Regions from separate parts of the Homo sapiens genome. Here region 1 is linked to region 2. Evidence: fine-mapped expression QTL. A gene starts in region 2. The other region holds a variant in brackets. All regions are shown on one strand. Distances are from middle to middle.

Region 1 (2,889 bases), 23 kb before region 2:
CCTGACCGCTCCTGCTTGCCAGCCGCCAAGACAGCTGCACCCCAGCCCTTACTCCCTCAACTCCCTGGCCCTGCGTGGCCCCGGCCAGCCTGAGTGCTTTCCACTTCACGCTGCCCATGCCACCATCTCCTCTTCCAAGGACTGGGGCGATGTGCCCCTGTGGGCTCCCACCCCCACCTCTACCCACAGCACGCGGCCTGGTGAGACGTGAGGCTCAAGGCCTCCCACAGCAGCCAGGAGGGAGGGCTGGGGCCCCTCCCCTTCAGCCAGGGGACCTGGTAGGCTGGCCTGGCCTCCCCCGCAGGACCCGGGTGGAAGGGAACTCTGCCCAGGGCGTGCTCCCCACAGTGGTCCTCAGGGACAGTGGAGGAGGCCGCCTTCTCACAGGCTTCCTCTCCAACCCCAGGCAGCCTCAGCTATTCCCAAGAGGCTCTCCTGGGTCCGCATCCAAAAGCTTCCTCAGCCCACAACCCCTGGAGAAGGCAGAGGTAGGAGGGAAGGCTGGAGGACCCCTGCTCTGCACAACCAAGCTCTGCCCTGCCTGCCTCAGGCTGGCCTGGGCACTGATGCCACTCAGAGCCGAGGACATCAGGGCCTGGAATCTCCGCCTGGTAGGTCATGCCCCTTCCTGGTAAGGGGACCAGGGGTGATCACACACCCGAGTGGGGCTGGCCACCACCCCAGGGGCAAAGCCACTGTCCCGGGTCTCCCGCCCTGTGCCGGGCCCCACTGCAGCCATGCACGAGCTGCCTGTGCCCCCCACGCCCCATCACAGGCTCTGCTGCTGGCCGGGCAGAAACTAAGAGGGGCCCTGGGGTCCTGGCACCCACAGCCTGAGGGGAAGGCCGGTACCAGCCCGGCCCACAGGGTGGAATCAGGGTGCTGGTCCCTCGCTGAGTGAGGGGTCCTCCCCGAAAGACTGCCTGACTCAGGCCCAGTCTACCAGGCTGTGCCACTGACCCTCCCCAGGGACCCGTCTAGGCGGCAGGGACTCCCCAGGCCCAACCCAAGCCATCTTTCCCTGCGGGGCGTCGTCCTGCTGGGTGCTCAGTTGGCGTCTCCCTGGCGAGGGGCCCCAGGACTCTTGACAA[G/A]GAGAGCTCAGTGGCTGGTGGTTCAGGCATGAGGGTGTCCGTTGGGGGCAGGCCTTCTCACCCTCTCAGGAGGTCCCAGGCTTCTCACCCTGTGCCCGCATTTCTCGCTTCTGCTCTCGCCTCCCCCTCGCCCACCCTCGCTGTTGTCCCCCTTGTACCCCGCAGGAGCAGACCCCGCGCACGTGCACTGGCCGCCCGGGGACCCCTAGCCGGGCAACTGCGGGGAGACAGCTGTGCCCGCGCGCGGTACCCCCGCCCCACCCTCCAGGTCGGGGCAGCCCCGGGCACCGACGGTGGCAGTCGGCGTGTCACCTCTCCTGCCATCCGCAGGGCGCAGCGGGCACGTGGCCCCTCCAGATAAGCAGAGCCCGGGGCCCCAACTCGCTTCCTCATGGCGGGCGGGGGGCAGCCCCAGGCGGCGCCATCTGACGCCCCCGCCCTGCGCGCTCCTACCCCCCACGTCCGCTGCCGTCTGTCGGTCGTGGAGCCGCGCTAGGCCACGGGGTCCCGGCCAGACGGGAGCGCCAGCCCCTCCCCCTGTCCCGATGTCCCCAAACCCAGGCTCAGCCCCTCCCTCCCCGACCCGATGACACCCCTGGGTCCTAGAATGCTGCTGGGGGCGGGAGACCGGAGAAGAAGCAGGTGCACGGGGAGGTGGGTGTCCTGCCCTCTGCGAGGAGCCCACCCCCTGGACCTTCTCCTAGCGCTAAGATCGGGTTCAAGCACCAAACCCGTCCCGCCTCGCCCAGGTCCCCGGCCGGTCCCCGCCCTGCCCCTTCCTGCCACGGCCCCTGCCCCGATCTGCCCCGCCCCTTCCGGCTCCGCCCCTCCGGCCTCGGCCCCGCCCCTTCCCGGTCCCGTCCCTCCGACATCGGCCCCACCCATTCCCCGCCCACCCTTTCCCTTCCCGGCCCCTGCCCCGCCCTGTCGTGTCCGCCTCTGCACTGGGATTCCTCCAGCCCCAGCAAGTCCCTCAGGTGGTCCCAGCCTCTGTGTCCGCCTCTGCTCTCCCAGAGCGCCTCAGGCAGAGCAGCCAGGATGGGGACCAGGCCCGCCTTACCGGGAATGAGCCTGTCACCTGCTCCTCCCACCCCGCAGCAGGTACGTCTGTCATCAGCACCCACCTTACAGCTGAGGTCACTGAGGCTCAGCGAGCGCGTGGCCAATCTACAGGGCCCCTCTTCTCTCCTCCAGGGAAAAGAGGGTGCGGTCCTACTGCCGCCTGGTGACCCAGGCCTGGCTGGGATGGAGACCGGGGCTGGTGGGCTGGACGAGAGTGGCAGGAGGTCTCTCCAGACAGTCCCCAACCCCCAGGCTCCCCACCTATCCCCAGGCTTCCCTCCGTCAGCCTTCCCACCCCCTAGCCCCTCTCCTCACCCCACGAGCCTGTTGGGGAGGGGCCGCTCAGAGGAGAAGGACTCCCAGGGTGTGGGGTCTGGCCATGCTCACCTGCCTCTCACCTGATGCCATGTTCAGGTTCCCGTGGACCTGTGGCTGCTTGGAGAGGCCGGGGGTCACAGATGGCGCCAGGACACTGTGGTGAGGAGTGAGTGTGCTGCCCTGGGGGCAGAGCCTGGACAGGGCCAGTGGCTGGAGGCTCCAGGACACACTCTGCCCCAGGAGGCTGCCCGGAGAGGGCCTGAGGCCCAGCTCCCAGGACGCTAGGCTGTCCTTGGGCAGGGATGCTGAGGGGTGTGTGACAGAGGAGAGAGCCCAGCATGGGGAGGGGTGACCAGGCCTGAGAGTCACAGAAGGACAAGAGAGGCCACAGGCCGTGACCAGAACCAGGGAGATTTGG
Region 2 (2,889 bases):
CGGCCCGCCAGCTTCTCGTATTTCTCCTTGTACAGGTCCCGCTCTTTGGCCAGGCGCCCCACCTCCAGCTTCAGCTGCTCCACCTGGCTCTGGAGTTGGCACTTCTCGCTCTCCAGAATGTGCCGCTGCTGCACCCGCTTGAAGCGGCAGGACTGCGCGTAGCCGCGGTTCTTGAGCGTGCGCCGCTTCTGCTTGAGCCGGATGACCTCCTCCTTGCTGAAGCCGCGGAGCTGCCGGTTCAGCTCGCGCACCGACATGGACACCAGCTGGTCGTCGGAGAAGCGCTCCTCCAGGCGCACGTGGTGGCCCGCGCCACCGCCGTGTCCCGCGCCGCCATGGTGGTGGTGGTGGTGGTGGTGGTGGTGGGCGGCGTGGTGATGGTGGGCGGCGTGGTGCGCGCCGTGGTGGTGGCCGGCGCCCATGTCGTCCGCTCCGCCGCCGCCCGCGAAGCCCGGGCCGCGGAAAGCCTCGTAGGCTGCGGCGGCCGCCGGGTGGTGCGCGCCGTGGTGCGCGCCGTGGTGGCCGCTGCCGATGAGCGCCTCCACCGCGTCCTCGGGCGTCAGGTTGAGCGCCTCGGGGTTGAGGTGATGCTGGTAGCCGCTCATCCAGTACAGATCCTCCAGCGCCGGCTTCCCCGAGGTGCCCCCGACGGCGCCGGGGCCCCCGCTCGGCGGCCCGGGGGCGCCCCCGGCCTGAGACGAGCCGCCGCCGCCCCCCGCGCCGCCGCCGCCGCCGGTGCCCGGGCTGGGCGCGCAGAAGCTGGGCGAGGAGGGCACGGAGGAGCAGGGCGTGCTGAGCGGCGTCGAGGACAGCGAGCCTGGCGGCAGGCGGTGGCAGAAGCGCTCGGCCTCGGGAGGCTCCTTCTTCACCTCGAACTTCATCAGGTCGAAGTCGTTGACGTACTCGATGGCCAGCGGGCTGCTGGGCAGCTCGGCGCCCATCGCCAGCTCCGCGGCCATCGCCCGGGGCCCGCGCCCGGCCGCGCCCCGACGGGCGGCGTGGGAGTGGGGGGGGAGCTGCAGGCCTCTCCCCCCCCTGCTCCCCGCGGGCGGCGGTCCCGGCGGGGGCGGGGGGGCGCCGGCGCGGGGCGGCGGCGCCGAGGGGCGCAGGGAAAAGTTTCACGTGGTCAACTCCGGGGCGGCGCGCTAGGGGCACCGCTGGCCAGGTGTCTCGGGCGACCCCGGGCCCGCGTCGCCGCCTCCTCCCCGCGGCCGCCGCCTCGGGCTGCTCCGGGACCGCTCCCGCGCCCCACCCGCGCCGCCGGCCGGCCCCGCCTCCCACGGCTAAACGCGAAGCCGCGCGCGCCCCTTTATAGAGCCGGGTGCCTGGGCCCGCCTCCCCGGGAGGGGCGCGCGCCCCCGGGCCAATCGGAGCCCCAGCCCCGCCGCCCTCATTTGCTTATCCCCATGGCAACTCAGAGCCCAGCTGTCAATCTCCTGCGGGAAACAGCTGTGGGAAGAGGTAGGGACGGGCCGCCGGCTAGAGGAGAGGGCAGGGCCCTCTGGTGGCCATCACGGGGCACTGCACGGGCAGAGGGCGCGCCGCCTCAGGGGACAACTGCCGTCTCCAGGGGCCTCAGCTCCCACACCCGGCGGCCGGAGAGTCCGGGGAAGCAGACGGGGACCGCGCCCGGGGACCCCCTCGGGGCCTCGTCCGCCTCGGGCCACGCGGCGGGACGCCCCCTCGGCCCCCTGGGTTTGCGGCCGGGCCTGGGGGCCGGGGGCAGCTCCGCTAGCGGCGGCGGCGGCGGCAGCGGGACCTCCGGGCCTCTGGACACGGGTGACACCGCGCGGCCCGGCAGAGCGCGGCGCGCTGAGCCGGTTATTTTTAGCCCGCGGCTCAGACGCGTTCAGGAATTTGGTCAACAAAGTTGCCGGCACCTCCGGGCACCGGGAAGCACGGGGCGGGCGGAGGGGGACACACGCGTGCGGGGCGGCGCGAGGGGCCGGGGACGGAGGGCCGGCTTGTGGGGGGCCGCGGAGAGCGCAGGACTGTGGGGGTCGCGGGACAACGCGGGTGGGTGCGAGCGGCGGGGGCGGGGCCCACGGGCTGGCAGCCCCTCAGGGCGTTAGGAATCCCCGCCCAAGCGGCCACCACTGCCCACTTTCGCCCCCCGCAGGGCTGGAGGCGCCTTGCTGGGCCTGGAGTGGGACGGGGGGTAACTGAGACGGGAAGGCGGGGATTTCCACCTGGCGGCCGTGCACCTGCTGGGAGGAGACGGCTCCGGTTCACGGGGCAAAGGAGGTGACGATGGGCGGTGGGCCTGTGACCCCAGGTCCCCGACACCAGCGAGCCGGGTGATGGGAGGGTTGCGCCAGGAGTTACAAGGCCGGTGACCCGAAGTGGGCCTATTGTTTCTTCTCGAAATTCTCTCCATTGCTGTTCTATGACTTCAGCAATTTAAAAAAAAAAAAAAAAAGTCTAAAATGTAACCACCTGTGTAGAGAAAAAAAGCCTGGAAGGAGTTGCGCAGAGGCCACAGGGAGGCCTGGTCACGGCGCCGCAGATTTAGTACCAGGCTCTCACCTCCTTCCCTCTACAAAGATCTATTGTTTTGTAACAAGAAGACTGTCATGAAGTGAGGACTGAACATCTGCTTCCTAAGGTGTCTCGGGGTGTCCCTGGCCCTTCCCTGGGCCCTCCCACTCCTCTGGGCAGAGCTGGGACTGCTGATTTGGGAAGACCAGGCCTTCCTCCCCGCAAGGGAGGGCCAAGGACAGCATGAGGACCCACCTGCAGGGACCCCTCTCCCCCGATCCTGTCCCAGAGGGGGCTCTGAGCTCCCCACCCTTCTACAGATGAAGAAATGAAGTGGGCATGCAGCAGAGCCAAGTCCCCACACTGGGTACCTGGACTTGAGACCACACGAGTGGTCAGCCAGCCAGGGGT

Evidence for each region. PIP is the estimated chance that this variant, and not a neighbour inherited with it, causes the effect.
Region 1: its variant is the best candidate, but not a certain one, in a credible set for the expression of MAFA in whole blood (INTERVAL, PIP 0.88).

The regions. Positions count from the first base shown.
Region 1 is chr8:143,406,178-143,409,066 of GRCh38, forward strand. It overlaps MAFA-AS1 (MAFA antisense RNA 1), which reads left to right and starts at 2,016. Exons shown (of 3, transcript NR_186795.1): 1 at 2,016-2,192. RefSeq lists an enhancer at 1-435 and silencers at 1,459-1,778, 1,819-2,018. The variant G/A (reference allele first, on the strand shown) is at 1,092.
Region 2 is chr8:143,429,448-143,432,336 of GRCh38, forward strand. MAFA (MAF bZIP transcription factor A) reads right to left here and starts at 1,285. Exons shown (of 1, transcript NM_201589.4): 1 at 1-1,285. The coding sequence starts at 959. RefSeq lists a silencer at 1,202-1,641.